Homo sapiens: one gene and its partners. The gene in region 1 interacts genetically with each later gene. Each region holds a gene or a part of one and is shown in the gene's direction. Other genes may lie near its edges. The genes, in order: NDUFB6, STK11 and NF1.

The links.
Region 2: changes in NDUFB6 (region 1) and STK11 together harm fitness more than expected from each alone (negative genetic interaction), as found in Homo sapiens cells (one large-scale study listed by BioGRID).
Region 3: changes in NDUFB6 (region 1) and NF1 together harm fitness more than expected from each alone (negative genetic interaction), as found in Homo sapiens cells (one large-scale study listed by BioGRID).

Annotation. Positions count from the first base shown.
Region 1 is NC_000009.12:32,556,125-32,559,774, reverse strand, and holds part of NDUFB6 (NADH dehydrogenase [ubiquinone] 1 beta subcomplex subunit 6), read left to right. Parts: intron 1-820; coding exon 821-865; intron 866-3,650.
Region 2 is NC_000019.10:1,219,214-1,222,863, forward strand, and holds part of STK11 (serine/threonine-protein kinase STK11), read left to right. Parts: intron 1-110; coding exon 111-200; intron 201-1,159; coding exon 1,160-1,292; intron 1,293-1,367; coding exon 1,368-1,504; intron 1,505-1,999; coding exon 2,000-2,127; intron 2,128-2,735; coding exon 2,736-2,793; intron 2,794-3,650. UniProt on the Homo sapiens protein: Tumor suppressor serine/threonine-protein kinase that controls the activity of AMP-activated protein kinase (AMPK) family members, thereby playing a role in various processes such as cell metabolism, cell polarity, apoptosis and DNA damage response.
Region 3 is NC_000017.11:31,335,831-31,339,480, forward strand, and holds part of NF1 (neurofibromin), read left to right. Parts: intron 1-502; coding exon 503-643; intron 644-804; coding exon 805-1,084; intron 1,085-1,537; coding exon 1,538-1,752; intron 1,753-1,988; coding exon 1,989-2,050; intron 2,051-2,194; coding exon 2,195-2,309; intron 2,310-2,873; coding exon 2,874-2,975; intron 2,976-3,650. UniProt on the Homo sapiens protein: Stimulates the GTPase activity of Ras. NF1 shows greater affinity for Ras GAP, but lower specific activity. May be a regulator of Ras activity.

The DNA of each region.
Region 1 (3,650 bases):
GTTATAGGAGAACAAGTCTATAGAAGAAAAATTAAGCAGGGTAAAAACTAGAGAATGATAAGGCTTGCTATTTTAATTAGGCCTCTCTGAGGAAGTGATCTTTGAAGACAAACATAAATGAAATGAAGATACAGGTCAAGCAGTATTTAGGAGAAGAGCATTTCAGGTAGAGGAATCATGAAGTACAGAGGCCTTGAGGCACAAGCAGGCTTGACTGAATTGGACTCCTAGGAATGGAGCCACTGTGGCTGTAGTAGAGTAAGTGAGGGAGAAAAGACTGGCTTTTTCTCTAAGAATTATGAAACTTTGAGCAGAGTGACATATCTTAAAAGAATCAGTGTACTCTGCCTTGAAGTGTGGAGAATAGACTTTTCATTTGCATAGGAGGGCACAAGTGGAAGCAGGGAGGCTAGTAGGTGCTGTTGTGGTAGTTGAGGTGAAAATATGATAGAGGCTTGGACAAGGCTGGTGATGAGAACCAGTTGGATTCAGGGTATATTCTTAAGATAGAATTAACAGGCTCTGCTGAGGAGTCAAGGTTTCTGTCTTTCATAACTGGGGGAATAAGAGTGTCATTTACTGAGATGGGGGACATGGGGAGGAACAGTTTGGGGATGGGAGAAGTTAAGTGTGGGACCTGGTTAAGTTTGAGATGCCTGTTTGATAGCTAAGTAGAGATGTTGAGTAAACAGTTGGATATGTGAATCTGGAGTTCTGTGAAAGTTTGGAGCTTAAGTTAAAATTTGGGGTATGACCTATTTCTTATTTTCAGAAGAAACTCTTAACACCATAATTAACACAGAGTTAACTTTTATTACAGGAAAAACCATATGGCATAGTTGAAAAGAAGTCCAGAATATTCCCTGTAAGTCTTAACACTTCTGATTTTTCTTTTGTTTATTGTTTTTCTCTTTCCTTTTCCTCCCTTTCCAAGCAATTATTAGATTAAAATGTTCTTTCCTTCTCACTTTCGGTTTAAGTCCCTGTTTTGTGTATTCTTGTAAAAAACAAAACAAAACAAAAAAAAACAGGAAGAAATACCGTGAGGTAACAATTACAGTTCAAATGGGAAGTGAGCACATTTATTTTCAACCTGGCTGTAAAACGTGTTTTGTGACCTTGATTTTCCTAAAGGGAGTTGAAAGTACCAAAAGTTTTTCACTGTGTCCTGTTTCATGTTGGGTAAAGAGCTTAGGGCATGAGCCTAAGCAAACATCCATGCATGGTGACAGCAACTGAATTTCTGTTATTAATTCCAAACTCTCATGTCCTATGGCTTTGTACCTCATTTTCAAGATTTGACCTTAAGTTCTCCATCTGTGAATTTAATATCCACTAATGGGTGTTTTAAATTTTATACTATGGGCCAGGCACAGTGGCTCATGCCTGTAATCCCAGCACTTTGGGAGGCCAAGATGGGTGGATCGTGAGGTCAGGAGATCGAGACCATTCTGGCTAACACGGTGAAACCCCGTCTCTACTGAAAATACAAAAAATTAGCTGGGCGTGGTGGCGGGCGCCTGTAGTCCCAGCTACTCGAGAGGCTGAGGCAGGAGAATGGCGTGAACCTGGGAGGTGGAGCTTGCAGTGAGCCGAGGTTGCGCCACTGCACTCCAGCCTGGGTGACAGAGCGAGACTCCGTCTCAAAAAAAAAAAATGTATACTATGAATGTGTGAGCTATAGTACTAATTTGAAATGAGTTATTTTAGCATTAAAAGGTGACTCAGTAGTCAGTTGGTATTTACTAGCTGTTTGTGAGGTTATTGTTTAGCATAGTAGAATACATACTATGTTCTTGTCTATTTCTAGTCACAGATAATGAACTATCATAACTCAAAAGTACACAATTTAAATAACAAAAGTGTGATTCTTGCTTTAATCAAATGACTTAGTCACAGTAATGATTATCTGTTGCAACAGGGGAATTTTAGGAAGGGCCACCAAAACTGGCCAGCGGTCCCAGTTGGAACGCTGGTTTAAGAAATAGTTGGGGGAGGGGCCAGGCGCGGTGGCTCACGCGTGTAATCCCAGCACTTTGGGAGGCCAAGGTGGGTGGATCACAAGGTCAGAACTTCGAGACCAGCCTGGCCAACATGGTGAAACCCCGTCTCTACTAAAAATACAAAAATTACCGTGCGTGGTGGCGGGCACCTGTAATCCCAGCTACTGAGGATGCTGAGGCAGGAAAATTGCTTGAAACTGGAAGGCGGAGGTTGCAGTGAGCTGAGATCGTGGCACTGCACTCCAGCCTCAGAAATGAGTGAAACTCCATCTCAAAAAAAAAGGAAAAAGGAAAAAAAAAAGTAGGGGGTATCGGGGGCTCATGCCTGTAATTACAGCACTATGGGAAGCCGAGGTGGGTGGATCCCTTGAGGCTAGGGGTTCGAGACCAGCCTGGCCAACATGGTGAAACACCATCTGTACTAAAAAAAAAATACAAAAATTAGCCAGGTGTGGTGGTGCACGCCTGTAATCCCAGCTACCTGGAGGCTGAGGCACAAGAATTGCTTGAACCTGGAAGGCAGAAGTTGCAGTGTGCGGAGTTTGCGCCACTGCACTCCAGCCTGGGTCACAGAGTGAGACTCTGTCTCGGGAAAAAAAAAAAAAAAAAGTGGGGGCCAGGCGCGGTGGCTAACACCTGTAATGCCAGCACTTTGGGAGGCAGAGGCAGGTGGATCACCTGAGGTCAGGATTTTGAGACCAGCCTGGCCAACATGGTGAAACTCCATCTCTACTATTAATAAAAATACAAAAATTAGCTGGGCATGGTGGTGCACGCCTGTAATCCTAGCTACCGGGGAGGCTGAGGCACAAGAATTGCCTGAACCTGGGAGGCAGAGGTTGCAGTGAGCCAAGATTGCGCCACTGCACTCCAGCCTTAGCGACAGAGCACCCTGCCTCAAAAAAAAAAAAAAAAAAAAAAAAAAGTAGGGGATTTCTCCTTTTGTTTTATTGTGTAACATTGATGTGTGTTACAGCCTAGGTAGTCTCAAAATAGGAAATTATCTTGCTGGTTTTTCCAGCTGGGCAATTTATATTTATTTAGTCTTCCATTTATTCCATTTAAATGTTAATTTATTTTGCCATTTACTGTTCAAAGGAAAAGGAGAGCTCTATTCAGAAGACCATATCAGGGATCCTGTAGCATTTCTCATATTTCTGTATTTTTTGCCACTGTGGTTCTTTCTTGTTTCTGTGCCATGACCCCTTTGAGGAACTGAAGAATGCTCATTGTATATATGTTTAGAATAGGACAAGTAATAACAAACTTCCAAATCTCAATGGCTTAACAAAACAGAGGTTTATTTCTTGTTGACATCACAGACTACTGTGAATCAGGTGATCTTCCTCAATCTTACAGCCGTGCCTATCGAATATGAGGTTCCAAGATTGTGATACAAAGATACGGCAGGATGTCTCAGGGGATGATTTTTAGGATCTAAGCTTAGAAGTAGCTTACATCACTTCTGCTCAAATTCTGTTAGCTAAAACTCACTGTCATCTTCCCAAATATTATCTGTGTGCTCTTTGCTATTTCCCAGACCCCTGTTCATGGAGTTTCTGCTACATTCCATCTTTCTAGTCACCAAACAGCTCTTGGCTTCTTTCTTTACCCATGCATAACACACTTAGTCTCTCTCCTTAGGGA
Region 2 (3,650 bases), on another chromosome or scaffold:
AGGGGCAAGGTGGGTGCAGAGGGTCCCTCCAGAGCCCCTTTTCTGGCCCCCGTGCTCCCTGGGCCTGTGAGTGGGGCCGCCCCCTGAGCTGTGTGTCCTTAGCGCCCCACGTATATGGTGATGGAGTACTGCGTGTGTGGCATGCAGGAAATGCTGGACAGCGTGCCGGAGAAGCGTTTCCCAGTGTGCCAGGCCCACGGGTGCGTGCGCGGGGCAGGGGCCAGGGTGGGGCGGGGGCCGGGGGCCAGGCAGGGCAGGCTCCTTTCCGTGAGGCCACACTGCTTGTCCTGATATTCATTGACATGAAGGCCCAAGTTTTTTTGTTTTTTTGTTTTTTTGTGTTTTTTTTCGAGATGGAGTCTCACTCTGTCGCCCAGGCTGGAGTGCAATGGTGCGATCTCGGCTCACTGCAAGCTCCGCCTCCGAGGTTCACGCCATTCTTCTGCCTCAGCTTCCCGAGTAGCTGGGATTACAGGCGCCCGCCACCACGCCCGGCTAATTTTTTGTATTTTTAGTAGAGACGGGGTTTCACCGTGTTAGCCAGGATGGTCTCAAACTCCTGACCTCGTGATCCGCCTGCCTCAGCCTCCCAAAGTGCTGGGATTACAGGCATGAGCTACCACGCCCGGCCTTGTAAAGGCCCAAGTTTTTAAAAACAGTTTTGGGGTCCCCCATGTGTGGCATCCACAGGCAGGGCTGCTGCCAACCTCCCGCCTCCATCTTTGCTGGGCCTGCTGCCTGAGGCCAGTGGCCTGCTTCCAGCCCATCGCTGGCAGCCGCCTGCCCTGACCAGATCTCCTGGATGCAGGTCTGTGGCCTCAGAGTCAGGGCCCCTTGCTGCTGCAGGACCACAGGGGCAGGGAGGGGCCTGCTGTTCCAGCAAGACTTTGGGGTGCAGCCGGCCTGTGGCCCACAGGAAAATGAGACCTGTGGACATCCGGGGCCCTGCCAGACGTGGCTCGGCCGGACGAGGGTGGCCACTGCAGGCGCAGGTGTGGCTCCCTGCTGGACCTAGCCTTTCCTCTGTCCTGTGTGCCTGGACTTCTGTGACTTCCCAGCTGGGCCTGTGGTGTTTGGGAGGCTCCCAGGCAGCTGCAAAGGGGACCCCTGTGAGGGGCAGGGAGGCCTCGGCCCCAGGACGGGTGTGTGCTGCCCGCAGGTACTTCTGTCAGCTGATTGACGGCCTGGAGTACCTGCATAGCCAGGGCATTGTGCACAAGGACATCAAGCCGGGGAACCTGCTGCTCACCACCGGTGGCACCCTCAAAATCTCCGACCTGGGCGTGGCCGAGGTAGGCACGTGCTAGGGGGGGCCCTGGGGCGCCCCCTCCCGGGCACTCCCTGAGGGCTGCACGGCACCGCCACAGGCACTGCACCCGTTCGCGGCGGACGACACCTGCCGGACCAGCCAGGGCTCCCCGGCTTTCCAGCCGCCCGAGATTGCCAACGGCCTGGACACCTTCTCCGGCTTCAAGGTGGACATCTGGTCGGCTGGGGTCACCCTGTAAGTGCCCCGCCCCCCCGGGCACTCACCACACGCACACTCCGAGGGGCCTCTGCGTCTTGGGCAGCTGCCGGCCTGTGGGCGCAGGGCGTGGCCACCGGCCCAGACCCTCTCTGGCCACAGCCGCTAGGGGGTGCTTACTTTATGGAAATGTAACTCATACGGCAGATGGTGGTTCACCCGTGTGAAGTGCAGCCTGGCCCGTCAGGGATCTTCACAGAGTGGCACGGCCGACCCTCCTCCCAGAGCCCCACAGGGAAGCTGGGCGGGTGACAGCAGCTCCAGGCCCCTTCCCCGGGTGGGTCCAGAGGACACTCCCCTCCTACCCCGTAGCCTCCACTAGTGGAAGGTGGTGAAGACAGAGGTGTCCTTGAGTCCACAGGGCCTCTGGTCCAGCAGCCACGGGACGCCTCTGTCCCTGGGGTAGAGCTGGGGCTCCTAGGGCGTCAACCACCTTGACTGACCACGCCTTTCTTCCCTCCCCTCGAAATGAAGCTACAACATCACCACGGGTCTGTACCCCTTCGAAGGGGACAACATCTACAAGTTGTTTGAGAACATCGGGAAGGGGAGCTACGCCATCCCGGGCGACTGTGGCCCCCCGCTCTCTGACCTGCTGAAAGGTGGGAGCCTCATCCCTCTGCCCGCAGCCCCAGGGAGGCGGGGCTTTTGTGCAGAAATGTAGGGTTGGGGGTGTCAGGTGGGGGGCTATTGGCCCCGAGACCCCAGCAGGCATTGAGAGGACTGAGTGGAGAGGCCGACCTCCCCGCAGGGCCTGGTTTGCCAGGTCCCTCAGCTCCACCCTGCTTCTGGGCCCTGTTCACCCTCCGAACTCCCACCCCAGAGGGCAGTGCTGCCCTGCGCCTCCCCCAGCCCCACCCTCGGGGGCTCCCTGGCTTGCAGGGTCTGTCAGGGTTGTCCTGCTGCACTTCCTACGCATGGCAGCAGGTGGCACTGGCCGTCCGTCCATCTGCCCAGTGGCCTTGGGAGAACGGAACCGCCCTGGCCGTCCAGCCCAGCCCTGTCTCCCTGCCAGCCGCGCACAGGCTGTCCCCGGCATGTCCCAGGAGTGGAGTGGCCTCTGTCAGGGAGACCGCCTGTGCGCGGGGTCCCCCTTAGGAGCGTCCAGGTATCACCCAGGGCCTGACAACAGAGGCTGGGCAGGCGGGGACGGTTGGTGGGGTCTCAGGCCTGTGCCCAGCTGACAGGCTCCTCGCCGGCTTCTCCTCAGGGATGCTTGAGTACGAACCGGCCAAGAGGTTCTCCATCCGGCAGATCCGGCAGCACAGGTGAGCGGCCCCTGGGGGCAGTGGGGCCGAGGCTGCAGGGAGGCCGGCCATGTGGGCAGCTGGTTGAGCGGGCGCTAGAGCAGGGCGTGGTGGGGGTGCCAGGCTGGGCTGGGGCCAGACCCCGTGCAGCGCCCGCAGTTCTCGGGGCCCGAGTGGGGTCTCTGGGCAGTGTCCTGTTACCGGCCAGACCCAGGCGCCTTGTCCGAACTGGGGTCTGAGTGAGGACATGCGTCCGTCCCTGCCCTAGGCATGGAGATGCGCCAGGAAGGGCACAGCTGGTCCCAAACACTGGCGAGAGCCTCTCTTTTTCCCCTCCTCCTGGGGCTCCCAGCAGCAGGGTGTGGCTGGGATCCAGCCCAGGGCCCCCAGCTCCATGACAGGGAAGACAGAGCAGCGGACGGGGTCAGCAGGCCCCACAGTGCCGCCTCCCTCACTTCGTGGGCTCTGCTCCTCTGCACCAGCCCCTGGAGGCCCTTGAGCCGTCTGCTGGAGCCCCTCCGAGCCCCGAGGCCACCCACTGAGACCGGCTCTGGGAGTGGGAGTGTCCGGACCCCTGAGGCGCTGGTGCTGATTGTGCCTTGGGGGTCTCTGCACAGCTCGGGTCATCTGGGCGCCTGGCGGGGACTGGGGCTGCCCCCCGATAGCCTCCTGGGCTGGGATGTGCTCAGGGCCCCCCAGACCCCCTTCTGGCCTTTGCTGGCTTTGCAGCCAGCATCCATCTGGTGGGTGCTGGCTTCTGAGTGCCACCTGGGACACAGGCCTCAGGGTGGAGGGGACATCTGTCAGGCTTGGAGTCAGGTCAGCCTGCCTGCTCCTAGAGGACATGGCTGAGCTTCTGTGGTCACAGCCACCCCTTG
Region 3 (3,650 bases), on another chromosome or scaffold:
AACACACCTGGCTAATTTTTGTATTTTTTTTTTTTTTTTTTTTTAGAGATAGGGTTTTGCCATGTTGCCCAGGCTGGTCTTGAACTCCTGGCCTCAAGCAATCCGCCCGCCTCAGCCTCCCCAAGTGCTGGGATTACAAGCGTGAGCCACTGCACCCAGCTCTGTATTTTCAAATTACTATTTTATATTGATGCTACATTACTGTCTTAGAAAAGCATAGAGATACTTTGCAAGTGACTGAAGATAGTATTGATAGAGATTTAAAATTTTTGAATACCAATCTCTTAATCTCTGAAGGAGTCAAATGAATATACTCATCCTTTACTGGATATTTTATAATAAATTGTATTTACTGACAGGCCTGTAAATAAAATCTAGTATTTTTGAGGCCTCAGGTAAAATAGAATTTTCATATTGATTAGGCTGTTCCAATGAATATTTTTTAATTAAAAATTAAATTGGTAGAGTGATTAAAAACATGTTATTTTCCTTCTTCAACTAGATTACAGATCTGCTTGATGTTGTACTAGACAGTTTCATCAAAACCAGTGCAACAGGTGGCTTGGGATCAATAAAAGCTGAGGTGATGGCAGATACTGCTGTAGCTTTGGCTTCTGGAAATGTGAAATTGGTTTCAAGCAAGGTAATCACTTTTCTTTTGCCTTCTGTACTATAGCATATCTGTTTTATCATCAGGAGGTTTTTTGTTTTGTAATTACTTTTAAATTAAACTGAACTTTTTTGTGCTAAAACTTTGAGTCCCATGTTTTTTTTTTTAAAAAAAAAAATCCTGCTTCTTTACAGGTTATTGGAAGGATGTGCAAAATAATTGACAAGACATGCTTATCTCCAACTCCTACTTTAGAACAACATCTTATGTGGGATGATATTGCTATTTTAGCACGCTACATGCTGATGCTGTCCTTCAACAATTCCCTTGATGTGGCAGCTCATCTTCCCTACCTCTTCCACGTTGTTACTTTCTTAGTAGCCACAGGTCCGCTCTCCCTTAGAGCTTCCACACATGGACTGGTCATTAATATCATTCACTCTCTGTGTACTTGTTCACAGCTTCATTTTAGTGGTAAGTTCTAGGAAAGGAATTTGTGTTTACCAGTTCCTTTCTCCATTTTACTTCACCTGATCAATATAGATTATCTTATTTATGTTTGTGCTCTAACACCAAGTTGCTAATTTAAGCCTCCAGTAATGACATGAAATATTACCAAAAAGAAAATAAATTACTTCCATTCCATATCAAGCTATAGTAAAGATTTTCTATGCATACTTGTCATGTAGAGTTATCCCATAAGCGGAATACTCAGTGCCAGTTGACCATGTTCAGTTACCAGCACTAATTTGTAGATAAATGAAGCAAGGAGCATTAATACAATGTATCTAGAGGTTTGATTTAGGGAACATGATTATGTAATTTTTATATGGTATTCAAATTTTCTAAATTCAAAATGAAACATGGAACTTTAGAAATTAAAAAGTAATATTTTCTGTCTTTACTTGTTCCTTTATTCTCTTACAGAAGAGACCAAGCAAGTTTTGAGACTCAGTCTGACAGAGTTCTCATTACCCAAATTTTACTTGCTGTTTGGCATTAGCAAAGTCAAGTCAGCTGCTGTCATTGCCTTCCGTTCCAGTTACCGGGACAGGTCATTCTCTCCTGGCTCCTATGAGAGAGAGACTTTTGCTTTGACATCCTTGGAAACAGTCACAGAAGCTTTGTTGGAGATCATGGAGGTATAGAAGCCAAAATGATAAGAAACTAAGTTAAAATCTTTTTTTAAAAATATGTTAATACTATATAGAAGAAATATTGGTTTATTGTGCTATTTTGTACTTAATGCTTAAATAAAAACACTTGCATGGACTGTGTTATTGGTAACAGGTCACTTAATGACATCATAATAAACATTATTTAAACAGTTCTAAAAACATTTATGTACAATATGTATTCAGAGTATCCCCTTTTTTAGGCATGCATGAGAGATATTCCAACGTGCAAGTGGCTGGACCAGTGGACAGAACTAGCTCAAAGGTATGTCCTAAATTAAATATAAGTTGTAAAAATATGCATATTGTTGAAAATACAGCTATTACTGTATGATCAATGTTATAATTTATTATTTAGTATATATAAACACAAAGGTTTTTATAAGTTCTGTGGATCTTTTAATTGCAGATTTGCATTCCAATATAATCCATCCCTGCAACCAAGAGCTCTTGTTGTCTTTGGGTGTATTAGCAAACGAGTGTCTCATGGGCAGATAAAGCAGATAATCCGTATTCTTAGCAAGGTACCTGTTCCGCCCTCACTTCTCCCAAATATTTATGGTTCTCAAGTTGTAAAGCATATCTTTCATTTTTCTAAAAGACGTTTAAATTTGAGGTCAATGAAATATCTTATATGTTACTTATTAAGCCTTTAAAATGTATTTTGATTATTTATTGTAATTCTTTGAAGAAGTCTTCTCTAAAGAAGCTGTCTTTATATGTAAACTCTGATTACTTCATTAAGGAAGATGTCTTTAAAATAAAATATGTTGCCTCTTTTGCTAAGCAGGTACACTTAGTATTTTACCAGTTTTCAAAGCATTTAATTATATGGTAAGACTATAGCCTTGCATAAAATTATTTAATTTGTAATTACTATAATAATGTCTGACTCTTATAATGTAGAAATGTCAAAAAATAAGAAAACAAATGTACATTAAGCTAGCTACCAAGATCACCATAGCATGAGAAATCATTCTAGCATTTATTAAATAAGTAAATGTTCCTGAATTCATTCCGAGATTCAGTTTAGGAGTTAATGTTTTATTTCAATGAAAGTAAAATAAAAAATTCTGTTTTCCTAAAAGGCACTTGAGAGTTGCTTAAAAGGACCTGACACTTACAACAGTCAAGTTCTGATAGAAGCTACAGTAATAGCACTAACCAAATTACAGCCACTTCTTAATAAGGTAATTACTGTATAGAAAATGAGTGCATTCATTTTGGGTATCAGTGTTGAATGTTACTTTCTTTCAAAGAGTTTAGAAAATAAGATGAATTGAGAATAAGTTATAAAGAAAAAACTATAGTTAAAGTAGAACCTCTTAAAGTTTAGTTGTTTGAAGTAGTCATATTAGAAGAAGAGTAAGTATGGATAGTATGTTCTCAAGCGCTTGTAAGTTTTTGGTCTCATCAGTGCTAAAGGAAAGATAGGTATATATTCTTAATTATTTTATCTTATAACTATTAATTATCTGCTATTGCCAAGTACTGTTTTAGGCGCTAGAGATAGAGTACTAACAAAGCCCATAAAACTCACTGCCTTCATGGAGCTTACTTTCTGGGGTGGGTGTGGAGGTTGGGGAGTGAATGGATAATGAAGTAAACAAAATACGTAGTATGTTAGTGATTATTACTATGGAGAAATTAAAGCTGGGAGAAGTATACTTGATCGTCATAAGAGTTTGGGTGCCAAATGAAGATTATATTTAAAAGGAGTAAAATGAAGTGGCCACTGTTTTAGGATGGTCTGACCTTATCCCATTTTTATATTTAAGATATCTGGAAATCATGTTTTTGTATTAATAAAATGAAAAAGATTCGATAATGGCATGGTATTACCATCCAGTTCTAAAGTGGTTTAA